Linked DNA regions of Homo sapiens: region 2 is linked to region 1. Evidence: fine-mapped expression QTL. A gene starts in region 1. The other region holds a variant in brackets. All regions are shown on one strand. Distances are from middle to middle.

Region 1 (15,317 bases):
TACAAAACATCAAAAATGTATCTACCTTCAAATTTGATGCTGGTTCTTTATTTTTCTGATTCACTTTTAGTCTGTTAGAAAGTAAAAAGACAAATTTTCTCCTTTATGTGAAAATAATCGTAGAATCATAAAAATTTAGAGTTAGAAAAAAACTTAGAGAACTTCTAGATGAAGTAAGCACAAGTCTCTCTAAATTAGAGACTTTGATTTATTTCCCTTACTCATAGTTACAGAATGAACTGGAGCTGGAACTCTGGAATCCAGAATGTTTTTCCTACTACTTAATGATTCCTCAAACTTATTTAGGCACAACTTTGTGTACATACGTGAGGCAGTGAGGCACCAGCGTTGAATTTAAAGTCTCTGAATCACACTGCCCAAGTTTGAATCTTGGTTCCTTACTAGCTGTGTGATCTTGAGCAGGCTACTTAATCCCTCTGTGCCTCAGTTTCTTCATCTGTAAAATGACATTAATAACTATAACTCCCCAATGGGACTGCTACAAAAAAAATAAATTAGTATATATAAAGCACATAGAATGGTGTCTGACATATGGCAAGTATTCCATAAATGTCAGCAATTACTAGGATTCTATCAATAACTACATGGATATGTACTTGCTAGGTTTTATTTTTACTTATTTTTTATTTTTTGAGACAGAGTCTTGCTCTGTCTCAGGAGCAGTGGCACCTGGAGCACAGTGGCACAATCTTGGCTCACTGCAACCTCCGCCTCCTGGTTCAAGCAATTCTCCTGTCTCAGCCTCCCGAGTAGCTGGGACTACCAGCGTATACTACGACGCCCAGCTAAGTTTTGTATTTTTAGTAGAGACAGGGTTTCATCATGTTGGCCAGGCTGGTCTCAAACTCCTGACCTCAAGTGATCTGGGATTACAGGCGTGAGCCACTGCACCCGGCCTGTACTTGCTAGGTTTTAAAATAGCTTAATTATACCACAATTGGAATAGTGGATCATTTTTGTTTTCAATACATGTATATGTACTCGCTGATATTCCATTTTGGCACGTGAACTGTGTAGCCAAAGGAATGGTTCTTCATAGAGTACATGCAAAATTCCAAATATCAAACACATAACTGAACTCACTTAAAAACTGAATACCATTCACGTGGTGATCATTTGGGCCCATTAATATACTTAGAACATCTGACATCCAGAGGGATTTCTTTCTTTTTGAGATGGGGTGTCACACTGTCACCCAGGCTGGAGTGCGGTGGTGCAACCTTGGCTTACTGCAACCTCTGCCTCCCAGGCTCAAACCATCCTCCCACCTCAGCCTCCCGAGCAACTGGGACCACAAGTGCACACCACCACATCTGGCTAATTCTTAAAATATTTTTGGTGGAGAAGGGGTTTCACCAGATTGCCCAGTCTGATCTTGAACTCCTTAGCTCAAGCGATCTGCCCGCCTCAGCCTCCCAAAGTGCTAGGATTACAGGTATGAGTCACTGCACCCAGCCAGAGGGATCATTTTTGTTTTGTTTTGTTTTGTTTGTTTTTTGAGATGGAGTTCCGCTCTCATTGCCCAGGCTAGAGTGCAGTGGCACGATCTTGGCTCACTGCAACCTCCGCCTCCCCGGTTCAAGCGATTCTCTGGCCTCAGCCTCCTAAGTAGCTGGGATTACAGGCGCCCACCACCACGCTCAGATAATTTTTGTATTTTCAGTAGAGACAGAGTTTCGCCATGTTGGCCAGGCTGGTCTCAAACTCCAGACCTCAGGTCAGAGGGATCATTTTTTTATTACCTCTTCCTCTATGTGATAAAATTATTTTTCAGTAATAATCATGAAATGAAACAATAGGAAAGAGACAGTGGAAATTCAACTCCACTTATATACCAATAGAAAATAAAGTAAGTATTATAGTACAAAAAAGGAAATTGTAATGAAATTAACATTTTCAAAAAATAAAAAACACATATGCCAATGTACTGGTTTGTTTGCAGTACTAAATAACATTACACCTCTTTTCTTGATTTCTTTTTTAGTTTTGAAGCAACTATTAACAATGAAAAAAGAAAAAAATTCAAAGTTAAATGTATTATTTGAATTCAATTATTCAAGAGGGGGCCGGGCACAGTGGCTCATGCCTATAATCCCAGCACTTTGGGAGGCTGAGGTGGGTAGATCACTTGAAGTCAGGAGTTGGAGACCAGCCTGGCCAACATGGTGAAACCCCAACTCTACTGAAAAAAATACAAAAATTAGCAAGGCGTGGTGCTGGGCGCCTGTAGTCCCAGCTACTCGGGAGGTTGAGGCAGGAGAATTGCTTGAACGGCGGAGGCGGAGGCTACAGTGAGCCCAGATTGTGCCACTGCACTCCAACCTGAGCAACAGAGCAAAGCCCTGTCTCAAAAAAAATTATTCAAGAGGATAATTCCATGAAACAAAAATATTATACCTTAAAATTTACACTATGTTTCACTCTTAAATTTCATAAACAAAAACTCTAAGTGGTCACATAGAACAATGTTTAAGTAATCAAGTTCTGTCTCTTCATCCTTAAAATCACTGTGCTACCATTGTTTACAAAGAATCTACTGTTTAAATGCAGGAATATGGACCACCAGGGTTGCGAACATGAACTGTGCCTTAAATCTTGAATTACCCTGAACTTTTATGAGTTTACTTGGAAATATATACAATAGCTGGGTCCATGTTTGTTGAAGGACAATTGTATGAGTGGGAGTTCTCTAAATTAATTTCCATGTAGAATATACTGTTTATTAAAAAAATAATTAAAATGTGCTGATTTGAAGTTTAAATTCATATACTAAAACTTAACAGAGACTACAGAAATTGTTTAAAATCCAGATCCATGAGAGATTTTTCATGGAGGACTATTTTATTATTGACACAGTTTAGAATTACTGGTACATAAAAATTACTGGAAATAAAAAACAGACTTTTAGTGGGTTTACTGTAGTTTAAATTCTCTACAGATAATGAGAATTACTATTGTCCATACCCAAGATCTACTGTTCTTATTGCCCCACTCTTGGTATGCCATTCAAGGTAAAATCTGCTCTAAGTACTATCTTTGAAGATGGGCTTGCTGCATTAAGTATTCTTAACCTACTTAGGAGAAAACTTTACAATTAATTTTTATTGAGAGCCTACTGAGTCCATGGTATTGTATCCACACAGACTGCATGCACATGAATGTCGCTAGTTACTAATCATATTTATTTGCTAAAGTCATCTCAACAGGATTTTTTTAAAAAAAACGATTTAGCGGCCGGGCGCAGTGGCTCACGCCTGTAATCCCAACCCTTTGGGAGGCCGAGGCAGGCAGATCACCTCAGGTCAGGAGTTCGAGACCAGCCTGACCAACATGGAGAAACCCCATCTCTACTTAAAGAAAAAAAAAATACAAAATTAGCTGGGTGTGCTGGCGCATGCCTGTAATCCCAGCTACTCAGGGAGGCTGAGGCAGGAGAATTGCTTGAACCTGGGAGGCGGAGATTGCAGTCAGCCGAGATTGCGCCATTGCACTCCAGCCTGGACAACAAGAGCGAAACTCCGTCTCAAAAATAAATAAATAAATAAATAAAAATAAAATTAAATTAAAAAATAAAAAACGACTTAGATATTGTATGTACTCAAATTTAAAATAAATACCACACAAAGTCACATATATTCCATTTTTCAGGCTTTTACCAACTCAGATTGGCTTTCTACCTGTACATTCCAAATAAGTGAGGTTATATTATAACATTTAGAAGAGCTTTCAAAATATTAACATTTATATCACATTAACAATTTAAGGACTTTGGGCATTATTCAAATTTTCACAAATCACATGGCATCAGATTCACTTGTTCTATTTTCACAAGCAACTATCTCAAGAGAACAAAAGCTTTAACTCTGCTACCAATCTTTTTCAGACATTCACAGGATCAACATCATCTCTAATCTATCCTCCCATAATCTTGCAGCTACATACATGTACAAATTTTCCATTTATGTGATCCTGGTACTCTTGAAAAGGCAGTCTTTTTAACTAAAAGAAAATCTGACTTACCTCAAAAGGTATCTTGGTATGAGAGAGAATGCCAACTACAGCCACGTTAGAAACGAACAGTTATGTCTGGCAAGGAAGTGATATACCAAGCTTAAACCCACAGTTCCACTTCTGCTTTACAGCTCTTATACTTTCCTGTTGCTACTAAGCTCCTTTACTCACAAAATTCCTCTCATTAGTCACCTGCAGTGTACTGAAGCAGCACCTGTACTATTTATAGCTCTAGGATTCCCCCACCCTCTCCTGTCAATAAGAATCACCTGGGGCAGTTAAAAAAAAAATCACAAGTCAACCCCCTGATATTAGATTTCAAGGTGTTTGAAAGGAGGCTCCAGAATCCGATTTTTTTTTCTAATCAGCTGAATTTATGACTCACAGAATCTGATTTTAAGCAAGTGTTCCCAAGTGAGTCTTATAAGCCAGTTAAGTTCAAGAATAATGCTCCAAGTGAAAGTGAGATCTGTGGCAGATCTTCACAGTTCCTCTAGCCTCATCAGCCTCAAGGGCTAATCCTCCTCCGGTGTTAGGCCTCAGGGTATTTGAAAACAAGAGAAGGCCCAGTTTGAAGAATGCAGAATGGCATCTCGTCCACACTTAAGTTTTCAATACCCTAAAAAATTTATCGAAGGGAGATTTTAGTTTGGGGAGGTGCTGTGAAGTAAGACATCACCAGGGGGCAGCATAGAGTTGACAAATTATACATGTTTTGGGATTTTTGACTTCACACTACAACATGAAATGGTTGCACCTACAATTTCCATTAACTCGGATTACTCAGAAAAGGACAAAACCCAGAACACTTAAGACACACGTAAACTTTATTAGCATGTAATTTTCAATACAATGGCTATTATATTATAAATACATAATATAAATATTTATAAATATAAATATTTTCTACAATGGCTATTATACTATAAATAGCCATTGTAGAAAAAAATGTTCCCTTGAAGTCGCATGAACCCGAATTCAAAAAAATTTTATTAGGATACAAAGATTCCTGGTAGAAATTTGAAGTGGTCTTCAAATTTCTCTCAGCAAGTTTCAAAATACTTGTCGTACTCTGAGAGTTAATTAGCGTTATAACTGGATGCTTCTCAATAGTTTCAATCAAATCTTAAGTAGAGTTCTACTAAGGTGGAAAATGGAGTGGATAACAATCTGGGCAAGCTATGCCAAAGCTTTTTCTAAAGAAAGTGTACCTAGTTAAAATGCTGTCACTGACTGTCAGAAAACTATAGCTCCCCTCCCGTGCATCCTCCATTAATTTTTCTTAACCCATCTCCACTTTCTCTATTCTAGTCCACATTTCTTCCGTCTAGAAATGTAGAAAAATCCTTTGGCAACCCAGGTAGCTTCCACAAGTATCATCTCCAAGTGTTTCTTCCTCTGAAATTCCACCATTAGAGATTAGAGATGAGTAGGAAATGCTGAAAGGCGAAGGAGGATCTGAAGAAATTTTACATTTTTTTCTCAGTTTGCCAAAAGTAGATACTCCCTGTATAGATATTCCCGTATAATCCAGGGAAGGTAGTCCAAGACCGTGGGGCAATTCCAAGAGGTGGTTTTGAAGTCCTTCAACTCTACCATTTTCATTTTATCCATACTAAAAAAGCTACGGCAGGAAGAAAAGACAAAGGACATTCCTGGGAGGCCAACTGGACCTAATCAAATAAAAACACTTTAGAAGAGGTACAAGAATCAGAAATCAAACCTATCTGCAGAGCCAAAAGCCATTCTGAAACTCCGTGTCCTAGAAACAAGGGTTTCCCATCTTTTCAAATATTTTAAGATAAAAATCGCAACACCCTATAGGAAAATGGCTATATTTTTAGCAAGAATTGGTGGAGAAGACAAACGATAATAAGCTACTATGAATCCAGAAGCTGCTTAAATGGCCGTATTCACAGCAGCCCTTGCAAACATTAATTAGAGTAGTACCCATTATGGGTGAGGACTTTTTTTTTAACCACAGAGAATATCTGTGGGTGCATCCAGATTGCTCAGTGGTTCCGTTTAACCCACCCGGTAACTGGCAATCATGGCCCTAGGACAGGCTTCTCCACCGGGGCGATGCTGCCTCCAAGGGGCGCAATGTTACTTTTTATGCATCAAGCACGGATAACACATACAGCACATAAGCAGGTCGACAGTGTATCTGCGGTACTGGGATTTCACGGGGAAAGGAGATGGGGACGTGTAAAAAGCCTTTTTAAGAGTCAGATAACGAAAAACGGAAAAAGAGGAGAAACACGGTCCTACAAGGGTCCTGAGCTGAGGCCATCAAATGAATGTACTGACAGGTATTTTTCTCCCAGGCAGCCAACTGAGAGTCAAGGCACTCTGACCGTGCTATGACTCCGGCCACACAGAAAGAGGTGTTTTCCCCTCGGTGGCCTCCAAGCGCAGCGGGCACTGCGTGCCATCCGCTCCCTCACCGGGCGCCCCGCGCGGATGAAACGGAGCAACTGGGAAAGAGCTCTGGAAACTGCAAAGCGCTGCGCCAAAGCGACGGGAGGTTCCCATTCTCAGCTGTACGAAATCCCGCGGGGGTCCTCCGCTTCCCCGAGCGACGCCCTCGGCCTCCGCACTTGTTGCTTCTGCGCCCCGCCTGCGTCCCCGTCAAACCCACCCTTCGCGGCCCCCTCGCCTCTCCACACGCTCGCACTCAGGCCCCGACCCTGCCCCGCGACCCCCTCACCCACGCCACGAAGCCCGCTCTGCGTGGCAGCCCCGGAGACAGCCGAGCCCCCGCCTCCGCCCCCTGCCCAGCTCAGGCCGCCAGCCCCTGCCAGCCGACGCCGCGGTTTCCTAGACAGCCGCGCCGCCGTTCCGCAGCCTCGGGGGCGCGCGCGCGCGGCCGGCGGGAGGCGAGGGCGCAGGCGCGGGCTCGGCCAAGCCGCCGGCGCGAGGCCTCGCGCGCGCCCCCGAGCGCGGTGGGCGGAGGGGCGGAGGGAGCGGCGGGGCCGCGAGGGGGCGGGGGGGCGGAGAGGGGAGCCCCGGGAGCGCGAGCCGCGGCCGGCGCCGCTGCAGAGCCGAGCGAATCCCGAGCCCGGGCAGCAGGTATGTGTCCTCGCAGCCGGCCGCGGCCAGAGCTTCCCCTGCCTCACTGCCCGAGTCTTGTGGTCGGGGCGGGGGGTGGGGGGACCGGTCAAGGTTTGCAGGATGCGTGCTCGGAAGGGCTGGGATCTTGCCGCTGACCTTCATCCCCCTGGCCGGGGGAGCCAGGCGAGGGTGCGTGGGGCAGCCCAGGGCTTCAGCTCCAGCCTGGAGACCTGCTTCTTGTCACATGCTTCTTATTTATTTTTGCAAACTGCCCTGGTTCGGGTCCAGCTGCAGATGCCTTACCTCCCATTCTTTGCCTCCGTGTGCCATCTTGCATTTATTAATAAAACATGCAAGCTGGAGGGGGGGGTTGCTGCTGGGGGGAATCCCATTGCAGTATGGCAAGCGGGCGCCTATTTTCGGTTTTCAGACGTGGTATAGAGGTGGAAATCCCACACCCTGAGGATTTGTGGCTTGGTTGGTCGTGACCACTTCCTAGTGGGCTTCCCCCGTTTGTCGGGAGGTGCCCCAGCGGCAGAATGGGCTGTCTGGAAGGGATGGTGGGTCTTCACCGTCAGGCCAGAATCCCCTTCAGGGGACAGGTGCAAGCTAGGGCAGGCAGTTCCCTGCTTGCTAACTTGCCAGGGAGGCTTAAACCTAGAAAATTGTCTCCCTTGATGGCCGAGAAAAGATGGCCTTCAACAGAATCCCTGGGACTTGCATACTCAAACTCATTACGGTTTTGCATCTGAACATGACTAAAGCTAGCCACCTGTTGGAAGTCAGACCCCATGAAACACCCCCGTAATCTAGCTCACCCATCCCTGTTTCACAGTCACCAATACTGAGCTAGCAATAGGCCCATATGGGTTCCCTCTATCCTCTTTAATGCTGCTTGGCTTTTCTTTTAAAATAAGACCTACCTATGATTTGATGCCCTATATGTGAGAGGTTGAAATTATATGATTTGTTTATATTCCATACACCTATCACATCATATCCTAAAGACTGAATTTCTCTTCAGTGCATGTGTTTATTTCCCTGGCTTTTCACCTTGCTTTGAACAACAGTGGGAAAATGGGATGTATATAACTGCTTACCTCCTCCCCCAAATACCTCCACCCTAAAATATTGTGATGAAAAGAATAGTAAGAGCTAGAAGCAAAAAATGAAAATGGTTATCACAAGATGTTGGGATATGATAGCTGAACCGTAATTGCTTCTAAAATGGTCAGAGTGTCACATCTAATCACGAGAAGGACATGTTTCTTAAATGTTCATATGTACCAGGTACTGAGCTAAAACTATTTGTGTATGAGCTCATTTAGTCCTCACAGCAAACCTGCTATGTCCATGTTGAAGATGAACAAGCCAGGACTTAGAAAGGTTAACTAACTTGCCCAAGGTCACACAGTCAGGGACAGGGTAAGGATGCAAACTCAAGCACATGGGGATACTGGAGGTGGGGAGCCCTGAGGGGGCTTTTCCTCCAGGTGCGGCTGCTCCGTGTACCTTTTCATTAAAATCAAGCTTATGCATGAGCATGTTGGCTTGGGTCTAATTTTCCATTTCATAGATTCTGCACCAACTTTGTGGCTTTCCAGTAAGAAAAGCAGTTGTTTCAGAATGGATCAGTATGGAATTTTTTGAGGTGGCACTAAACCTATAAAAAGTGGGGTCCAAGATGTGCTTCCATTTAATTCTCACACACAAGGAGTTGAGTTTAAAAAGTTGTTTCCCTCCAGATTTAAACCCATAAAACGTATATGCATTAAGTAGAATGAATCACTCCCATTTTCCATTATCGCATCCCACCCTACCCTCCTTGCTGCCCTTCACACTATCTTCTGGTCTCACTGCCAGTCATCAGAGCAACATTGTCTATCACACTTGCCTGTGAGTGCCTTAATGGGAGGAAGGAATCCATCCGTACCAGCCGTGGCTCGTAATCCAGTCTCTCTATGATTGTAGCAATTATGCATTCAAAGTTCTTGGAATCTCTGCATTCAGCTATGGATGTGTATTTAATCATTTTTTTAAAGTGCATTATTATAATGCAGGTATTGGATTTTGTTAAACATTCCTAGCAGTTCTCATGGACTTAGAAATTGCTGTAGTTGCATCAGTGAAAATTCACCCAGTGGGGCTAATAGCTTTTCTACTCAGGTCACATAGTTGAGATAGTGGTGAGAAAGGTATAGGTGAATAGAAGGAATTATTTGGAAAGTATATCCCATGCAAATAACAGCTTTTAATTATAAATTGATGAATAATATTAAGTAGGAAATATAAGACTATCTCTTTTAATTTTATAAGCTCTGTTTTTGCCTTGGTCAATGTGATTGGTTTTAGAGCAACATGATGTTACCTTTTTCATTACACTGTTCTTTTGAAACAGTATAGCGGTTTGTACATAGTATTCTTGCCTCGTGGGAAACACTCAGTTTAGGAGGAGCACATTCCCTGGTGTTTACAGAAATGCTGAGACAGGATCTTTCTGTCTTGGGGATTTCCAGTCTATGATCAGATAAACTCAAGATGAGTCCTGATGTTACTGGGCAAGAAGCAGAAAGCAAGAGGTGTTACTTGATTTCTGGGGAGGAAATGAGTTTTCCTGTGGGGAGCATCACTATCTTCTTCAGTTGGGAATCTCATGATTGAAGAGTTTGAGAAACGGACTAGTCTGCTGTCTTCCATTCAAGCAGGATTTCATTTAATGCAGAGCTGAGAAGGCTTTATCGTGCAAAGGCCAATTCAGGAAATATAAAAGTGTTTCTGGACTACTTTTTTTTTCTCTTAAAACATATATTTAAACTGGGAAAGTCATATGGGAAACTATTAATGCTTAAGCATTATTTGTTTTTATTCCCTTCACGAGAGTTTTTGGGAGAGTGGGGGAAAAGTTTTCCAAGCTATGAAACTCACATGTCTGTGGTGACTGATTATAATGAATATTTTAGTACATTGTTGAATAAGGCACTAAAACTGGGATATTTGTTTTTCCTTGATCGACCTTGTAAGCTACTTCATTATGAAATGTGTTTTTTCTTAAAGTATTTCTTAATTTAGTATTCTTTAAAATGAGATTTTTATTCAGTTGTCGACAGTCTTGAATCACAAAAGTTCACAGATTACTTTGAAATACTTGATTTTCATCAGTCTCTGTTTCTTACTATGGCTGTCGTGTGCTGTGTCCTGTGATAGGAAGTTTCACATCTCATATTGCAGTGACCACCCTTTGTGGTCAACTGTTTATATGATAAGAAGTGGGGGAGCCCAAGGTATATGACCTAAGGGGCAGAGCCAAGATTTGAGCCCAAGTCAGCATAGCTCAAACTCTGGGCTCATTGCCTTTTGCACCCTGACTGCAAGATGAAGCACTTTCTGCCCCATAGTTCTCTGGCCTCCCATCCTATTCTGCTCCATCCACACTGGCCTCCTTGCTGTACCCCCTGCCCCAGGCCCTTAGCACTAATGGTTCTCTCCCCTGGAATACTCTTCCCACAGGTATCTTCATAGTCCCTCGCCTCATTTCAGCTTTGCTCATAGTCCAACCACTCCTTTAAAACTATCCCCACTCCCACAGCATCCTTTCCTCCTCCCTGTCTTGCTTTTATTCGTAGCACCTCCTAGCCTACTATATTAATTAGTTGTTAAGTGTATTGCCCATCTCCCCCATGGAATGAATGCTCCAAAGGGCAGGGGTTCTGTGTATTTTGTTCACTCCCCCAACTCTGGTACTGTGAAAAAAGAATCAACAAATCACTATGGTATCCTTGAATCTTTCCAGCTTCCCACACTTTTTGTTTTTGTTAGTCCTTACTGTTCTCTGTAGTGAGCAATGAAACCTCTAAAATGCAAAAGCTTTATGTGTTGTTTGGGGGAACAGCAAGAAAGTAGAGAAGAATCGGGAAAGATCTGGCTTACTCTTGAGCCGGTGTTGGGAAGAGAGGAACCTGTAAAGATGGGGAAAAAGTCACCTGAGGGTTGGGATGTGTGACGAGGCAGCAAATGGTACGTGGGGAGATGGCCTGGGATGGAGAAGAGATCTGTGTGGGTTCCCTTGTAATGGGAATGCATAATGTTTTTGAAGAACTTCCAAAGGAGACTCTGGATTCCTTCAGCCATCCATCAACTCTCCCAGTGGCCTGAGTCACTAGAAAGGAAAAGGAGCCTACGGTCATTCCTACTGGCTTTTTACACAGACAGGTGAATCCTTGCACTGCCTGCATTATTAGCCTGTTGCATTTTTTAAACATTAAATACCTGTTGGTGTCATCCCTGTTTGAGCCAGGGTCTGAGAGTTCACTGCCAAAGCACTTACCCCATGTGTCTGAGAAGCATCACAGCCTGAGATGTCTTTGGTGTAAGCAGTCCCAGGAAGGACTCCACATATATCTTTCATTCATCTATTGTTTGCAGTAGTTCTTGGGCCGTAGCAAAATCATAGGCACTTTGAGGACTGATTCATCTGCAGAACACTTTAGAATGGACTACACTGGGATGCTAAAGGGAGTTCATGGTTATGGAAAGAAGCCTGGGAGAAACTGCTCCTCAGCCACAAAGGCCTCCTCTCCTCCTCCCGGATGGCTTTAATTGCTGCCCTAGGCAGTCTGAATTACCCGCCAGGAGAGGATTTCCCCTTCAAAAAACACAGCCTCCCTAAAACTGCTTTTGATTTGTAATAGAAACTACTTAGTAGCTAGGACAGAGGCTGATAACTCCTATTCCCAGAACTCATTAAAACAAGGAATTTTAATAAGTATTTTTGCCCTTTGCAGCCCAGGTTTTTGGAAGTCCAGGCAGCTGTTCTCTAGATTTCACTGTCAAGCCGTAATGCATGCAATGCTTCAGCTTCTTTCCCTTGGCTCAAAACAGGTCTGAAGCAAGTTATTTTATCTACAATTCCCTCACACCATCCCACCCTGGTTACACAATTGCCATTTTCTCCAGCCAATACAATGCATAAGGCCAATTAACCTTCTGCCCATGACAGTTTCCTTTGAAATAGTCAAATCTTTGTACTTTACCTGAATTTGATGCAGGGCTTTTAAAAAACAATTTCTATGACAGTTACTAATTCTCCTTTAACCATGACTCCTAAAATTTGTTAGCTTTGCCCATCAAAACAAAAGAACAAGGTGAAATATATTGCAATTCCTCAACAAAGAAAAAGTTCCATTGTTTTGGGACACAGTCTCAAAAGAAAAGCTTGGAAATTTCTCTCCCATTTCTCCCTGTCTTTTAACTGTCAGTTTCTATGCAAGGCTCTATCACTGCCCTTCTTGATACCCTGCAAGGAGCTCCTGCCCCCACCCCTCTACTGAAACAGAACTCTTAAAGGTCACCGGTGATTGCCTAATATAAATCCAATGGCTGTTTCTCAGATTTCGTTCATGATGGCTCAGCAACATCTGACCCCATTGACTTCCTCTACTCTTTGAAATGCTGTCTGTCGGCAGCTCCTTCCTAGCGGTGTCCGTGTCTATCTGGTCTCTCCTCTGCTGTCATCCTTCCTGTTCTATCAAGAGGCAGTCTGAAGTGGTTAAGAGTGTGGGCTCTGCCTGTGATGTGAATCCTGGCTCTAGCACTTGCTAGAGTAGCTTTGAGTAAGTGATTTAACCCTCGTACCTCAGTGTCCTCATCGGTAAAATGGGGAGAAGAGTAGCTACGGCAGAGGATTAAATAGTATGCTTAGTAAAGGGTAAGCACCCAACAAATGCTATTTTTTTTTATCATATAACTTCCTGTGTACATGCCTGTAACTTTAGAATAAAACCCAAATGCCTCCCTCTAGCCATCAGGACCTCTAAGATCTGGCTCTCGTTTAGTTTGTTTATATCTCAGACCCTCCCCAGTGTGCGTCCACTTCTGAGGCTTTGTCCCGCGCACTCCCCACTCAACCACCCTCACCTCTTCCTATTCTGCCCCTCCTTCCCTGGCCAGAGGAGGGAAGAATGCCGAGGGGTGCCCCTGCCCAGGAGCCACCAAGCACAGCCTGCTTTGTAGCAGAAGACAGCCTCCCTTGGGCATGGAGCCTGTCTCTCTCAGACAGAGTATGAATTACTTAAGGGCACCAGCTGTGATTTATACTTTTAAAAAATATCTTCCTCAGCATTTAGCACTATAACTTTACACATAGTGGGAATTTAACTCATATCTTTTAACTGCCAAAACATTATGGTTTTACTTGGCCCTTCCAAAATCCTTTTTCCTCCTAAATTGAAACCTGTATTGATCAGTCCTGGAGCTCATGTAAGCTTGATACGGGATAATTAAGTCAACACCACAGGGAGAGTTACCCATGTCAGAACCTTCTTGGAACGAGGAGGGATATATAGAAATAATTAAAATAATGAGAGCACAGGGAATAATTTAATGCTTTTAAAAAGTAGCTTGAAATCCTACCAACCTATAAAGCTGTTAGAATTTTTAAGAAGTGTTTAGAAGTTTTTTCTATACTCTCTACTCTCAGAATAAAATGAGCTGTAAAGCTGTGAGTATCAAATCTATCAACCCTTCAGACCTTGCTATAGGCCTGCTCTGGAGCCACTGTGTTCTAGTCCTGCTTGCTTTCTCCTTCCTGCCCTGGTGAAGAGGGCATTGAAGTTGGATGAAAATCAAAGGAAGGGCTGCCTACTTAAAAAAAAAAAAAAAAATTAACCCCTTTATTGGCGTTGTGAGTTGGCCTGGCAAAGACAGCCTAAGTTTTCATCGGCATCTGCTGTGTGTGTCCCTGGGGTCATGAAGAGTGCCAGAGCTGTGCTGCCAGTATAACAGCTTCCCACCCCACAACCCTGGAAGCCACAAAGGACCATATGCTTTGCATCTTGACATTCTGTAGCAGAGTTTCTCAACTTCAACACTGTTGACACATGGGGCCAGGTGACTCTTTGTTGCAGGGGCAGTCCTGTGCATTGTAGGATATTTAGCAGCATCCGTGACCCTTACCCACTAGATGCCACCGGTACTACCGCGATTACCCCCCGTCCCCAGTGGTGACAACCAAAAATGTCTCCAGAAATTGCCAAATGTCCCCTAGGGTGCAAAGTCACCCCCATTTGAGAACCGTTCTCCATAGGATCAATACAGAAAACTCAGCATCTTTCTAGTTTGAAGAATACAGAACTTAGATAATTTGGGTCAAATGAAGATGAAGATTGGGTTATAATATACATGAAAGGTAAATTTGGGTTTGAAATTACACAGACAAGGAAAATTTAGACTCTATAAGCAGTTGTAGATTATATCATAAATAAGGAGATGTAAACAAATTACAGAAATGCAGACCATCTTCTTACTCCTGAAGGCCTCGGGTCTAGATGCAACAGCACATTCTGGGACTGTTAAAATCATCCTTGGGGCTGGGTGCGGTGGTTCACGCCTATAATCTCAGCACTTTGGGAGGCCAAGGAGGGCGGATCACCTAAGGTCAGGAGTTTGAGACCAGCCTGGCCAACATGGAGAAACCCCGTCTCTACTAAAAATACAAAAAATTAACTGGTGTGGTGGCACATGCCTGTACTCGGGAGGCTGAGGCAGGAGAATCACTTGAACCCTGGAGGCGGAGGTTGCAATGAGCCGAGATTGCGCCATTGCACTCCAGCCTGGGTGACAGAGCAAGGCTGCGTCTCAAAAAAAAAAAAAAAAAGAAAAGAAAAGAAAAGAAAAGAAAAAGTCATTCTTGGGTTTTTTTTTTTTTGGCATTGTATTTAAGAGCTTAAAGTATGCAATAACACATCCTGTGACTGTTAAAATCATCCTTGGGGTATTTTTTTGTGGGGGGCATTGTAATTTAAGTGCTCAAAGTACTTGTCGGCCTTTGACAATAAGTATATCAAACCAAAAATAATTAATATTTCTGGAGAAATCTGAAATATTTGATTATGACTGGAGGGAATTATATTTGACCTGCAAAGGGCCAGCTCTCCCCACCAGAGCCTGCTTCTGACCATAAAGCCACTCTAAGACAGCACTCGCAGGTGCTGCATAAAGTAGGACTGACAAGGTACTTTGTGCTTTGCTGAAAGGCCACAATTGCTCAGTAATCTTCATGGCTCTTAGAAAATTTAGCTGGAGACTTGTGATTTAAAACCCACCTCCAATTGACAGTCATCATTATGTTCTTTCTAAATGCAGTAGCAGAAATTGCATGCCATACCCAAAGGCTAAAAGTGACAGTTAAAATACATGCTTTCTGAAAAACTTTAAGGCCCCAACTTTGGGAGAGA
Region 2 (15,317 bases), 120 kb after region 1:
TGCTGGAAAAGTTGGGCAGCACCAGCTGCTTTGCCTGACTGACCCCTGGTCCCGGACACACGGCAGGGCCCAGGGCACTGAAATGGGCCTCCTCTCACAGGTGTTTGACGGGGCTGTGATCATCCTATCTTTGGCTCCGATGGTGGCATCCACTGTGGCCAATGGACCCAGGAGCCCCTGGGACGCCATCAGCCTCATCATCATGCTCCGGATCTGGAGGGTGAAGAGGGTCATTGATGGTGAGTGGCCCGAGGGGGGTGTGGTCAGTGGGGCTGCTCCAGAAAGTGGGGCTTTCAACTGAGAGGAGATGCCGTGTGATGGGGGTACACCCTGCTGGCGTCAGGACGGAAGGTGAAACTGTCGGCAGGGAGAGGGGCCAGCTGTCCCTGCTCACTCGCCATCACGCGTTCATGCACACTGCCAGGGTGTCACACGTACACGCTGAGCTTCCCACTTCCCATTTAGGGGCCATGTGTTCATTCCCATGCAGCTATTTACTGTGAGCCTGGGGGGGCCAGCCCCCATGCAAGCCCTTAGAGCAGGGCCTGCCATTCTGGAAGGAGCAGACTTTTACACCCTGGGCGTCTCGATGCACACCTGCTGCTGGCTCCCCGATGGCTGCCAGCCTCACCACTGGCTCTATCCAGGTCATCTAGTCAAGGCCTTGCTCCCTGCAGGCTTTGTCTCACCTTTGAGTCCACCAAGGACAATCTGGCTGCCCACAAGCCCATTGACCTGCAAACAAGTAGAGAAGGGAGCTGCTGGCAGGGGCTGGCTTTTGGCATGTGCTTCTGTCATCTTTAGTGACGTGCCTTTCCATCCCTGGGTCTCCATTTGCAGAAAGTATCTGGTCCACTCCTTTGTCATTGCTTTATCATTGCCACCCCACTGGGCCACTCTTGTCTGGAAAGCTGTGCCCTGACCTGGGTGGCTCCTGTGTTTCCAGAAGGTGGTGACAGACCAGAGTGAGTGGCCCAGAGGACATGGGGGACAGAAAACCCACCCCTGAAGAATGGTGCAGGATACTGGGGGTGGGGGGTGACCCAGAGGATGACGACAGAGGCAGGACACTGAAGTCATCTTATGGAAGGGGGAAGACTCAAGTCGCTGGGCTCCAGAGGGTGTCCTTGGTCCCTGAGGACAGGACGAAGAGGCCCACCCCACCTCAGCCAGATAAGGAACAGAGCCACTCATAGGGGGCTGGTCAGCCTCCAAGAGAGGTCCCCCTAGAGTGACCAGGAGGTTGTATAGACAGTGGTTCCCAGGATGTTTTGTTGGTTTGGTTTGGTTTGGTTGACAGCAAAGCCCTTTCTTCAGCAAAATCGTACCCAGTCTGTAAAAGAGATTGCAAGTGGAGCTGCTTTGGTTGACTTGGAGTGGAGGGGCCTCACAGCCCACCTACTTGCCTTCTCCCTTGCCCTCTGAGGCACCTCTAAGAAACTGCCAGGCCTTCTGGAGCACGGTTTTAAAACCACTGGGATAGATGCTATGGTCTTTTCCAGCCCTGAATTTTGATTGCAGATGATAAAAATTGAAGCCATGAGAATATTCCGCCAGCATTTGCCACGCAGGTGCAAGGCAGAAGCTGTCACCCTCAGGGTGGGCTCCCTCTCCCTGGGCCTCACCCTATGTTCCACCCTGCGAACACTGTGGGATTTGGTCCTGATGAAGATGCTGCCATCTTGTCAGGGATCCCCCAGTAGGGAATCTTCATCAAACTGGAATGTGTTTGGGTCTCACTTCAGAAGCCTTCGGAAGGCTGGGAAGGCTCTGGGAGATCACCTGGTTCACTCCCCTCATTTGACAGATGGGGAAACTGAGGCCAAGAAGGATGAGGGTCACATAGTGAATCAGGCTCAGAACCAGAAGTGGAGCCTAAGACCCCTGACACCCACCAGCGCTCTTTCGGCTGCTCACTCCCTGCAGTCTGCTCAGGGCCCTGTTCTTGGCTCTGTCCATGAGAACATCCACCCCCGCTCGGGGCAGGATCAGCGCCTTCTGGGTCTTTCTTCCAGCTGTGAACAGCCGCACACCCTCACACTAATGGATTTTGAGAGCCCCCTTTGTGACGCTCTTCCCAGCTGTCCCGCCCTTTTCCTGACACATCAGGCATCACGGAGCTACCGGGAGCCTCAGGAGAGAGACGTGCTGGTGAACAGATGGGCGTTAATTTGCTACTCTTGCAAATTAACCCTGGGTGTGAACTGGCTTCAGCAGAGATTTGAGGAGGCAGCGGCATCTTGGGGCGGCCTCTGGACCTGGAGATGGGTCTCAGGGACACGTGGCCGGTCCTCAAGCAGAAAAGTCCCAATGTCTCTTCTCTGCTGATTCCTGCAACAGCCAGGAAACATCTGGAGGTGCAGAGGCTGTGGGTGGAAAGGAGACTTGGAGAGAGGAAATGTGGAGGGTTCTAGAAATCAGGGGCAAGAGAGGCATGTGACCGAGGCTTCTGAAGAGTCAGGAAGGGCTGGGTTTCGAGGGGTGCGGGAACAGTGTGAGGAGAAAGGCTGTGTTAAAGTCAGGAGTGGACACTGAGACTTCCAGGAGCCCAGAGCTACTCTGAACCCACAGAACCACCAAGGGAGGTGTCCGTGGGACTACTGCTGGCTGGTGGAGCACAGGGCCCTCAACCTCAGAGGCCAGGCTTTCTCTTCTGGGTCTCACTATATCAGTTATAAATAGGATCATCTGAGTAACAGAGACTCAGAATAACAGTGTCTTAACACAGAAGCGTATTTCATTCACGTGAAAGTCTGCAGGCCAGGCATGGTGGCTCATGCCTGTAATCCCAGCATTTTGGGAGGCTGAGGCAGGCAGATCACCTGAGGGCAGGAGTTTGAGGCCAGCCTGGTCAACCCTGTGAAACCCCGTCTCTACTAAAAATATAAAAATTAGCTGAGTGTGGTGATGCACGCCTGTAATCCTAGCTACTGGGGAGGCTGAGGCATGAGAATCGCTTGAACCCAGGAGGTAGGGGTTGCAGTGAGCTGAGATCATGTCACTGCACTCCAGCCTGGGTGACAGGGTGAGACTCGGTCTCAAAAAAAAATAAAAAAAAAAAAAAGAGGTCTGTGGGAAGGTGGTCCAAGACAGATATGGCCTTGACTACAGTCACTTACTCCCTGTAGTCAAGAGCCCAGGCTCCTTCTGTTTTTCTGTTTTGTTGCTCTGCTGCACTTAGCCTACTTTTCAAAGCCACCTCATGGTCCAAGATGGCTGCTTCCGTGCCAACTATCACATCCTCATCCTAGCCAAGAAGGAGGAAGGGAAGAGGATAAAGAGGCAAAAGGAAGGCCCACTGCCTTCTCATTTTAAACATCTTCATCCAAATATAATTCACATGCCGTAAAATCCACCCATTTAAAGTCCACAATTCAGCCAGGCATGGTAGCTCATGCCTGTAATTCCAGCACTTTGGGAGGCTGAGGCGGGTGGATCACTAGAGGTCAGGAGTTTGAGACCAGCCTGGCCAACGTGGTGAAATCCCATCTCTACTAAAAATACAAAAATTAGCCAGGCGTGGTGGCGGGTGCCTGTAATCCCAGCTGCTCGGGAGGCTGAGGCTGGAGAATCACTTGAACTTGGGAGACGGAGGTTGCAATGAGCTGAGATCGCCCACTGCACTCCAGCCTGGGTGACAGCAAGATTCCATCTCAAAATAAAAGTTCACAATTCAGTGGTTTCTAGTATATTCAGAGTTCTGCAGCCATCACCAAAAAATCTAAGTCTGGAGTGTTTTCATGACTCCAAAGAGAAAGCCTACACTCATCAGAGTCACTTCCCATGTCCACCTCAGCCCTAGGCAAGCACTAAGCTGCTTTCCATCTCTATAGAGTTGCCTGTTCTGTTCCATTACATTTCATATAAATGGAATCATGTGACGTGGTTTTTCTCTGCTGGCCACTCTGATTTAGCATCATGTGTTTGAGGCTCATCTGTGTTGTGGCTGGTGGCGGGACTGCACCCCTTTTCATTGCCAAGTAGTACTCCACTGCATGGCTAGACCACAGTTTATTCACGCATTCATCGGCTGATGAACATTTGGGTTATGTCTACTTTTTGACTGTTAGGAATAATGCTGTTATGAATGCTCATGTGCGAGTTTTGTGTAGACACATGTTTTCCTTCCCCTAAGGTACCTAGGAATGGAGTTTCTGGGTCATATGGTCACTCTCTGTTTAACACTCTGAAAAACGGACAAACCGTTTCCCTAAGTGGTTGCCCCGTTTTCCTTTCCGCCAGTGTGTGCAGGCTCCAGGGCCGCCCCATCCTCACTGGCCCCAGCTCCTTTGTGAAGAAGGCTCCTGCAGCTGCTGCATGCCACCTCCACTAGCATCCTATGGTCCAGAAGGTGGTCTTGTGGCCACCCATAGCTGCAAAGGAGGCTGGAAAATAGTCTTTATTCCAGGCAGCTGTGCACACAGCCCAAAAGTATGGGTTCTAGCACTATGGAAAACAGGAAAACAGCTACCCTGGACACCATGAGCGAAGGCTGTGGCCCTCTGTACTTTCTGGATGCTCTCGGGTACCTGGACATTTCCCCTTCTAGATCCACAGAAATGGCCCAGGGCCTCGAACCTGCTGCTGCCTGAATGCTGGGCCCGCCCTTCCCTAGTCCAAGCCCTGCCACTGCTGAATTCTTTACAGGGCTGTCTCTGTCTTCCAGCCTACGTCCTGCCAGTGAAGCTGGAGATGGAGATGGTTATCCAGCAGTACGAGAAGGCCAAGGTCATCCAAGACGAGCAGCTGGAGAGGCTGACGCAGATCTGTCAGGAGCAAGGGGTAATGCACTGCCACTTTCGGCTCTGTCCGTGGTCTTGCTGGGGACACTGGTAGTGCCTAAAGCCATGGGTTGCTAGAGCTGCAGGGGCACCAGAGGTCAGGGAGTTCCTCCAGCCCCTTGTTGGACTCATGGGGAACCTGAAGCCCAGAGAAGGGGACACATCTCCAGGTTCACTGATGTATAGCCCAGCCAGGCATGGACTCAACCCTGACTCCCAGGCCAGGGTTCTTTCCACTGTAGCACGGTGACTCTTCAGCTCCCCAACCTGAGTCTGCCAAGTCGCCCCCTCAGTTCATCAGAGTCTTCTCGGAGACATGGTCGGTCTCTAAAGCCAGTCGCTAATTCTGTCTGCTGAGGGTTGCTGGGCACCATGGTATGCCCATTGCCACGCGGGACGCCCAGGGCCCCAGAAAGATGCTAGCGGTGCTCTCTACCCTCCAGGAGATGTGATGCAGACTCAGAGAGGCAGGTGGTGGGCCCTGCAAGGATGGGCTCAGCAGAGGCAAGGGGGACTGGCAGCTGGGCCAGGGGCACCCTGTCGGGAATCCAGAGACCTGCATTCAAGGCCTAGCCCTGCTGCTCCCACCCCGCCGGACTCCGGCCAAGTTGGGCCACCCCTCTGCCCTCAGTTCCTTCCTCTGTAAGATGAGGTGGCTGCTCCCATGTGAGTGGGACAGAGGAGTTCAGAGGAGGGGGATTGGGGTACTCAGGAGGGGGTGGCTGCTGGATCCCGCAGCAAGGCTGAGAGCTCTGTAGAAGTGCAGCTCGGTGTGCAGGGAAGGGTCCGGTCCCAGGCTGTAAGGTGGGAATGCTACTGAGGGGACTGGCAAGGTGGTGGGAATGTGGGGGATGGTCCAAATGACATGCATGGTCATTCCCATTCTGCCCGATGGATTCTGGGGAGAGGACAGGGCCACTGCCCCCAGCTGCGCAAGCCAGAGACGCTAAGCCTGTGGCTCTCTGTGCCCAGGGCCAGGCGAGTTCTTCACGGGCTGTCTTCCAGCCCATGTCCTGCCAGTGAAAGTGGAGGAATGCCCGTGGCCGCATATTGATGTGGGCACTGAGCCCTTCTGGCTTGCAGTGCGGTGAGGATGGGCACCCCTGGGCTCCCTATTCCTCCCCCATTGCTGGGTGCCCAGGCAGTCTCCAAGGTGGCCTCAGGGTTGAGGTCTCATGTGGCGTACAGGCCTGCTATGTGTCTGCCCGTCCTATCGACCTCCTCTCTCATGTGTCTGGTGCATAAACACCCCGACTGTGCCAAGTGGAGTCACCTGTCATTTTGACAAGCCCTGTGCCATGCCACCTCTTGGGTTTTGGTTGCGCTGTGCCCCTTGCCTGAATCCCCGCCCCTTGCAAGCTCTGTCTGTCTAATTCAAGTCCTAGCCTCTCTACAGAGCATGTTCCCCCCGCCAGTAGCCTCTGCACCTCCTCCCCCAGCCCTGCAGCAGCCCTCACTTGTCCACATTCACAGGGCACTGGGCACTCACTGCCATGGTCAGTGCTCCTTTATGCCTGGGGCAGCTCTTCCCGCTGAAATAGATGCCCCCTGAAGGCAAGCCTTAGTCCAACTCACATCCGGCCCCAGCCAGCACTCCGCGCGTTGTAGGTCTTGGTCAATGTGTGTTCAGTGTATGTCGTGGGTCTTGGTAAATGTGTATTCTGTTGCGGGTCTTGGTAAATGCATATTCACTGTACCTGTTGGCTCCTCGACCAACCCCAGCCTCTCACAGTTTTGGGGTGGGGGACACGTCTGTGGAATGTCACAACAAAGTGATCCTGGGAAATGTCCCCACAGGAACACGCACACAGTGTCTTCAGAATCATCCCCTCGGAATGTCTGTCAGGAAACCAATCTTTTTATCTGCTTTGGGAACACTATGACCTTTTGTTTCGCACAGAATGCCTATGCGTGACAAGAGGGGTCATCAGGGGACATGGCCCTCAGGGGCACGTTGTCCAAGGTGTCCCGAGAGCAGGGCAGGCTATGGAATCCTAGACTAGGAAGAGAAGCATTCCCTTCCTGAGGAGCTGGCATCAGCTTCATTCATTCTCTTGCCATATCGCGTGGTTAGCCAGCACCGTCCAGAGCTGCTCTGTGCTGGGCTTGTGCCGGGCATGTGGATGCCGCCTAGGACAGGGTGTGACCCTCGTCCTCACGGGGCTCTGGGTGACTCAGGGGGTTTGGCAGCCCATAAATAGGCAGTGGAAATCTGGTGCAATGCCTGTATCACATGGGCACGTCCCGGGCTCTGCAGGCCAGGATGGGGAAGGCTTTCCAGAGGAGCTGATGTGGAGCAGAGCCCTGGGGAGAAGGCTGCCAGGCAGAGGGAACAGTGTGGGGTGTGCGAGTGGGTGCAGTGCCCCCGGGGTTCGGGGCCATTTAGAGGGTGAGCAGAGGGAGGCAGTAGGATTGGGGACAGGCTTGGGAAGGGGCTCTGTGGCTGACCAGAGAGTTTGGGCTTTATCCTGCTGGGACAGAGGAAGCCTGGAGGATTAAAAGCAGGACTGGGGGATCTGCTCAGATGTGAGTTGTTGATGGAGCCTTCTGGCTGCCGTTGGAGGCTGGATGGAGAGGGCAGGGTGGAGACAGGAAGACTGGGGACAGAGGCTGGAGAAGAAGGTGAGAGAAGCTGGGCTTTAGGCAGAGGGGGCTGCAGGGAAGTGGGGAAAGTAAAGTGCAGGGTGTCATCCAGAAAGCGACTGGAAGCCGATCAGGCAGTTCTCATTCTGCTGTTGAA[C/T]AGGAAAACAAATGCTCTACTTCACTGCAGTTGGCAACGTGAAAGACACGGACACAGGGCTGCATCCGCCCCTCATAAATTCGCAGCCTCCCAGCCCAGCAGGGAACGCGCTGACCCTGCCGCACACCTCACCTCAGCCACACATGCGCCACGTGGCCAGGAGAAAATCCTAACGGCAACCCCACCTCCCAGGGTTTCCACCATGACCTCTGTCCGGAGCCCCCCGGGGACCCCAGGTTCCTGCCGTCCTGGTTCAAGTCACCTCCACATGTGGCCTCCTTCCCGGGGGTCTCAGCCGGAGGGAGACTCCCTTGCATTCTGCACAGGAAAGAGCCAATAAATAAAGACAGATTCCCTCTAGGTAGCGACATCTGGAAAAGAGATGAACAGAAACGAACCATTTTAATTTAAAAAACACCTGAAGCCTGTCATCTTAGTTAAGACAGCAGAAAGGGCCAGACAGGCTGGACTCCCAGTGGGGCCACCGGGGAGGGTGGGGGCTGCCTGGCCAGAGGGACCAGGAGGGCAGCTCTCCTGGAGTCTGTGGTGCCCACTCCACAGAGCGAAGCAGACAGATGCCTCACTTGCAGCTGTATTTTCAGACCTGGTTTGAGACTTGACTGGGTAACAGATACCCTGGAGGAAATGAGACTGTGGGCCCTGGAATGTCAGAGATGGCTAGACCCTTGGAGACAGCAGCCCATGGAATGGTTGAGAATAGACTTGGTTCTAAATAGACTTTGAGCTGGCTTCGAACCCAGGTGTGTCTCTCTTTAGAACACTTACTGGCCTTGTGGCTTTGGGCATTAATGGGACATCTATGGGCCTTGGTTTTCCTAATCTGAAAAATGGGTGTAGTAATAGAATCCTCGAAGGATGGTGATGAGATCGTAGCCTAAAGCCTGACACATGATGGGTAGCAACTAATGGGTGTGGACCCCGAAGTCCACCAGCCCCACCACACCTGCCCCACACACCCATTTTACAAATAAGAAAACTGAGCAGTGGCAGCTCGCCTTGGGGGCACACAGCTAGTCCAGGGGGGCATAGAACCAGGTGTCCTAACTGTGAACACTGTTCTTTTCCAGCCCATCACGTTGAGCCTCCTTTTTCCTACTCATGGCACTTAGCACTCAGCAAAAACATTGATCAGATTATGCATGGGGTATTTTATACTGCAGGCACAGACCTGGCTCCCCTCAGCTGTCTCAATGGCAGCCCCCAACCCCGTTCCAGGACAGTCTAGTATTCCTTGTGACAAACTCTTGCTGTCTCCTTGCTGGAATTCTCAGAGTATAATGAAGACATTTCCAAACTGAATTCACATATGCTGCCTGAAAAATTGACATTTACCAATGAAATGTGTTAGGGTCCCAGTTTAAATACAACACCTGGCCTGGCGCGATGGCTCACACCTGTAATCCCAGTGCTCTGGAAGGCTGAGGCAGGAGGACTGCTTGAGGCCAGAAGTTTGAGGCTGCAGTGAGCTGTAATGACACCACTGCACTCCAGCCTGGGCCACAGAGCAAGACTGTCTCTAAAACAAAACAAAACAAAACAAAACAAAACGCTTTTCACTCCCTTGCTCTCTTGCTGGGGTGTGTTTGTACAACTATTTCAACTATTTGCCACAACTTCACCCAGCTCTTTTTAAAAAAATAAACTTTATTTTTTAGAACAGTTTTATATTGACCAAAAAATAGTGAAGCAGGTGCAGAGTTCCCTGTATCCCTTGTGCCTGGCTGCCCATCATTAACATCATACACTAGTATCATTTGTTACAATGAACAAACCCACATTGATACGGTACTCAGGTTTTCTTAGTATTTAATCTGTTATGTCCTCTGTTTGCTCCACGTCGCATTCAGTAGGCTTAGGCTCCTCCTGGCTGTGGCAATTTCTCAGACTTTGTTTCTGATGACCTGAAGGGTTTTGGGGAGCACTGGTCGGGTGTTTTTGTTTTACAGGATGCCCCTCTGTTGGGATTCGTCTGATGTTTTTCCCAGGGTAAGCCTGGGGTTGTGGGTTTTGGGAGGAAGACTGCAGAAGGAAAGTGCCATTCTTATTGTCTCACATCAAGAGGACACACTGGCCACGTGACTTCTCACTGTGATGCGGCCTGGATCACCCGGCTGGGGCAGCGTGGGTCAGGTGTCTCCACTGCACAGTTACTCTCTGTTTCTTCATCTTAAGCTTTTTTTTTTTTTTTTTTTTTTTTGGAACAGAGTCTCACTCTGTCACCCAGGCTGGAGTGTAGTGGCGCCATCTTGGCTCACTGCAACCTCCACCTCCTGGGTTCAAGAGATTCTCCTGCCTCAGCTTCCCGGGTAGCTGGGATTACAGGCACCTGCCACCATGCCCAGCTAATTTTTGTATTTTTAGTAGAGACGGGGTTTCACCATGTTGACCAGGCTGGTCTCAAACTCCTGACCTCAGGTGATCCACCCGCCTCACCCTCCCAAAGTGCTGTGATTACAGGCATGAGCCACCGCACCCAGCCCATCTTAACTTTTTAAGAAAGATTACATTGCTTCTTACCGTGACCCTGTGGAGACTCTCAGGTGAGCCTGTTGGCCAGTTTCTTGCATGAATATCTGATTCATTTCACCTTCTGTGCTACATGGCAGTTCATTTCTTGTCACAGGCCCACATGCAAGGTGCTCCAGAATCACCTTATATAACAGATGAAAGGTCCCTGGGGAGGGCAGCTGGCCCAATCCAGGATTTGGCAGATGGGGCATCTGAGGCTCAGAGAAAGGGAGAGGTGGGCCCAACGTGGCACAGCAGTTATGAGGCCAGGACGAAAACAGGTCTCTTGTTGCTCATTCCAGTGCCTTCCCTCCTGGATCACACTGGCCCTCTGGCTTTGACAGGGAAACAGGCTTCACTGCTTCCCTCATTCCTATGATCTCTTCTGGTTGTGGACACACCTCATGCTTAACAGATTCCTACTTGGGGAGGGGTGCCTAGAGGATCCCGGGAGGGGAGGAGGTCTCTCTGCTGGTCAGTCATACCATTCCAAAGCCCTGGCCATGCCTTCTGCAGTCCCTTCCAGACTCCCCGCTGCTGTGATAGAAGCACATGGCTTCTGACCCCTGAATTCAGCAATTCCTCAATTCCTTAGGTGGAAGTTCTTTTCCATTCTTTTTGTTTGTTTGTTTGTTTTTGGTGAGGGGTGGATCTTGGCCAGAATTTCATGACGAGTTAGGCTCGCTGGTACACAGATGGAGTCCAAAGTCACGATGCTAGAGGCTGCCCTTCAGAGAGACGGTGTGGATGCCTTGTCTCTCTCTCTGTCTTGGCTGCTTCAGAAACCAAAGCCATTTTAGATGCAGCAGTTAAATCAATGCAACGATATACTCTTCTGACTCATCTCACGAAACCACCTCTGAGGTTTTATGTACCTCCATGCGTGGGATCTCGCTCTAGTTCCGAAACACATTCTGAAGTCTCCGTTACACCCGCTCTTTCATGTTTAAGCCTGGTAACAGCTTTTGGTACAAAATAGTATGATCTGACCTGGCCCACTGTGGAAGTTAGTTTCTCTTCTCTGACGTTCTGCTTCCTCAGCACCATTCACCCTGAGATCATTGGCAAAATACTGAGGGATATGAGGCTCAATCCGGGGTGACTCAAGGTCCAGCCTCCAAGGAGACCAGTGGGACCTGTGAGCCCCTTAGGACATCCTTAGACCTTGGGAAAGGTGAGTCCCTTGTCGGGGAGCTTGGAGGAGTGGAAAGAATCCTCTTATTCGGGGAGCCAGCAAGCCAGATTCAAACCTCAGCCCCACCAGTGACCAGTCATCTTCCCTTTAACCCCTGAGCCTCAGCTTCTCATTGGGGAAATTGGAGGTAACAAGGCCTACATCGTGTGGATGCCATATGCATCAAATTAAATCTGGCCTGCTGGAGGCTTTCAGTAAGGGTTAAAAAAAAGAGAGAGGTCGGGTGCGGTGGCTCACACCTGTAATCCTAGCACTTTGGGAGGCCGAGGCGGGCAGATCACGAGGTCAGGAGGTCGAGACCATCCTGGCTAACACGGTGAAACCCCGTCTCTACTAAAAAAAAATATATATAAAAAATTAGCCCGGTGTGGTGGCGGGTGCCTGTGGTCCCAGCTACTCAGGAGGCTGAGGCAGGAGAATGGCATGAACCTGGGAGGCAGAGCTTAAAGTGAGCCGAGATCATGCCACTGCACTCCAGCCTGGGTGACAGAGCGAGACTCAGTCACAAAAAAACAAAACAAAACAAAACAAAAAAAACTACTAAATGTATCTATATGATGGTTGCTCATTCACAAATGCACTGTCATGTTTTAGCTCATTTTTCCTTTGCTGGTGAAAGTTGGCAGGCTGGGTACTATTAATCCCTTCACATGGAAAGACTGAGGCTCAGAGAGGCTATTCTTTGGCCAGATCCTGTAGTTTTTCATGGAGGGACTAGGAAAGAAACCCAGGGCTTCAGTGTCCATTTCCCTGCGCCAGAAAGAGGCATCTGCCTGAGTCACTGATAGTTAGGGTGAGTAACACCAGTTGTTGCATCCAGCAAATCCAGAAATCTGAGTCCTGACACAGGAGGAGTACATTTGTCACTCTCATCATACTCCAATGCAGGTTGCAATGGGGCAGGGTGGAGGGACCCTCTGTTCCACACAAGTCACTCAGGCCTCCAGGCTGCTTCCATTTTGTGGCTTTTTTTTTTTTTTTTTTTTTTTTTTTTTTGAGATGGAGTCTCGCTCTGTGGCCCAGGCTGGAGTGCAGTGACATGATCTCGGCTCACTGCAACCTCTGCCTCCTGGGTTCAAGCGATTCTCCTGCCTCAACCTCCCGAGTAGCTGGGATTACAGGCATGTGTCACCACCCCTGGCTAATTTTTGTATTTTTAGTAGAGATGGGGTTTCACCATGTTGGCCAGGCTGGTCTCGAACTCCTGACCTCAAGTGATCCACCCACCTCGGCCTCCCAAAGTGCAGGGATTACAGGTGGGAGCCACCAAGCCCGGCCGATCCTTCTTCCTCCAAGTCCTCGGAGTCTTCTCCAGTCAGTGGATAGGAAAGTGAGGCTGGGGAATTGGGCACAGCAGGTTTTTATTGGCCAGGACTGAAAATGGTGATATTGCTCTGCCCCCGTTTTATTGGCAAGAGTCAGTTGCACAGTACCAACTAGGGGCACCAGATGCTGTCAGAAGTGGTCTTTGTGCCCAAGAAGAAAACAGTCGCCTGCACAGTCACCCAACCCATAAAACAAGGCCAATGGGCTCACAACATTCCCTACCCTTTCCCCGGTTCCACCACAGCAGGCGGCACAGCCACACTTATCAAAGTCCTTCCTGGGGGAATGCCATGCCTCCCTGGCCTGTTTTCCTGAAGAAACAAGATGATAATCTTGACCCTGCAAGCTGTAGGCATTTCTGATGGAGGAAGATGTGAGGAGAGGAAGCTGTCACGCCCCCCCTCCATCCCCTTCGCTGTCTTTCACGTGGAGGAACCGGAGCAGACGTGGGAGGTGGTGGGTGGTCTGATTGGGAGCCAGGGCCCATCTCCCCATCCAGGCCTCTCGCTGGACCCCATTGTCCCCTGGTTTTCTGGACCCCTGAGAGAATGCCAACGGCTCTGCGTAGGTCACTCGCCTTTGAGGCTGGGCTAGCAGCTCAGAAAAGGGGCCAAAGGGCAGGAATAGCAGGAATAAAGCCGTGGTTCCATGCTGGCTCCAGGGACGGGGCTTGAGGCTGGCTCATTCCAGAGAGCTCCTTCTTTTCCTACAGAGGCCACAAGTTCCCAGCTCAGCACAATAGCCTTTGTTACCTGGATTATTCAGGATCTCCACTGTGGGAAGTGAAATTTTTTTTAAGATGGGAAGTGATTTGTAAAACAGCCGATAGCTTTAATGACAAGCCTATTTAGCTGATAAAATCAGCCATCAGAGGAATAACTTATGTTATCCTTTTGCCATAATTTAAATTTATGGCCAACTACCAGTCATCTTCACAGTGGATGGAAAGGGGCCAAGGTCGATCTCAGCTTTACTCTGCTCCTAAATCATTAGTTTGCAACTGTCTCCTGATTTTTATTGTTACCAACAACGGTGAAACTAATGGAAATAAACATTGGATGCTATCCCAACAGCAGATGGGTTTGAAGGCAGGGCAGCCTGTGCAGACAGCACTAATAGGATGGAGCAGAATTACTGCTATTGCATTAGATACCATCGAGCTTCTGGCCAAAGTGTGCATTGATCAGGACAAGGCCCGTGTCAATTGGACTCCACAACCGGACCATTAAAGGCGGAGAAGCGCTGGGTGTGCCCGTCCTGCCGCCCCGGTGGGTCTGACCCCTCCTGGGCTTGCATTAAAAGCCCGGCCCCGATGGAAGGGGCCTGACTCACTCCAGTAATGCATACTGCGGGCTTCCCTGTGGATCCCAGATGATCTGGGCAGGTTATCTGATTAGAAATACTTAGCTAATGATGTGCACTAAATGGGGCTGTGACTGCACTTTAATTCTTCCCAAGCCTAGGGATGGTCTTTTTTTCCCACCGGGCCCATTTGCCAATGGAAGATTTGCTTCATCGGAGCCACTGTGCACCTTCTTTTCCTAAGGCACAGGCCCGTGTGAGCCCTGGGGAGCCCCGTCCTGTTGTGTTTCTTCCTGTTTTCAGCAGTTTGACTGCAAGGTGCTTCTGTGTGGATTTCTGTGGGGTTTTTTGGTATTTATTCTGCTTAGGAGTTTCTTAAATTTGTGGATTGATGTTTTTTATTAGATTTGGGAAGTTCTTGGCCATGGTTTCTTTATTCATTGCACCTGTCTCATTCGTCTCCTCTTGGAGCTCCAGTTGTACCTGAGGCCATTTGATTATGTCTCACGTTTCTCTTAGATCCTACTCTGCTCCACTATTCATTCTCTCTCTCTCTCCCTGTCTCCTTTTTTAATGGCTGTAAGTTTTGATGTTTTTCTATAGACCTGTCTTCAACAACCCTACTACGTCCAATCTCCTGTTAAACCCATCCAACCAACTACTCAATTTCAGATACTGTATATCAAGATTCTAAAAGTTTGATTTGATTCTTTTTATAGAGTCTAACTCTCTGCTGAAACACTACGCTCATTTTGTCTGTCTTTCTCCCCTATTTTTGTTCACATATTAATTGTAGTTATTTTGAAGTCCTTGTTTGTTCACTCAAATATTTACCCAGGTCAGCTTCTATTAACTGTTTTATGGCTTGATAACCACATGTTTTTCTGCTTACTTGCATGATGAATGATTCTCATGGTGTGCTACACATCATTGATGATGCATTTTAGAGGCTGTGGATTCTGTTATCCTTCTCTGAAGAGATGGTTCTCTGGGAACGGGGCATTTTGGCAGGGAGTAGAGGATGGCCCTCAAGACAGCAGCAAGCCTTAACTGCACTTACACTTCATTCCCTCCAGGTGGGGTCCTGGAGCTGGTACAGAGCTCGTCATTGACTTGGAATTCAGTGAGTCCATTTGCCTTATTGGACACACAGTGAAACCAAGGCCCGGGGAAGAAAAGAGGCTCACCCAAAGTCAGGGCAAGGGAGGGGTGATGGGCCAAGAGCTCAGCCTCCAGCCCCTGCTTTTCCCTCTGGTGACTTTCTGTTCTCCTGGCCCCTGCTACCATCAAGCTGCCCTGGATTCTGTTGGGCTGAGTCACTTCCATCTTGCTTATAAGGCTGCAAGTTCCCTGGCTCAAGGTCTTGGGGGCTAGAAGCCAGGGGCGTGGGCTGTGGCCCCTGCTTTGCTTCTGAAGCACCATGTGGTCCTGGCCTTTCCCCCAT

Alleles and levels. Alleles are on the strand shown, and positions count from the first base shown. SD is a standard deviation of normalised expression in the study named.
For the expression in visceral fat of the gene that starts at base 7,073 in region 1, allele C in region 2 goes with a lower level than allele T (small effect, 0.22 SD a copy in GTEx).

What was found.
Region 2: its variant is fine-mapped to the expression of TMEM266 in visceral fat (GTEx, PIP 0.94).

Annotation. Positions count from the first base shown.
Region 1 is chr15:76,052,913-76,068,229 of GRCh38, forward strand. It overlaps TMEM266 (transmembrane protein 266), which reads left to right and starts at 7,073. Exons shown (of 11, transcript NM_152335.5): 1 at 7,073-7,104. It also overlaps a transcript of NRG4 not described here. RefSeq lists enhancers at 4,183-4,232, 4,293-4,342, 4,533-4,582 and a silencer at 6,066-6,115.
Region 2 is chr15:76,170,893-76,186,209 of GRCh38, forward strand. TMEM266 (transmembrane protein 266) reads left to right here. Exons shown (of 11, transcript NM_152335.5): 7 at 101-239; 8 at 4,667-4,782. It overlaps LOC101929439 (a long non-coding RNA gene), which reads right to left and starts at 10,594. Exons shown (of 3, transcript NR_120360.1): 1 at 10,060-10,594; 2 at 7,654-7,892; 3 at 3,999-5,578. RefSeq lists enhancers at 10,685-10,734, 10,945-10,994. The variant C/T (reference allele first, on the strand shown) is at 7,522.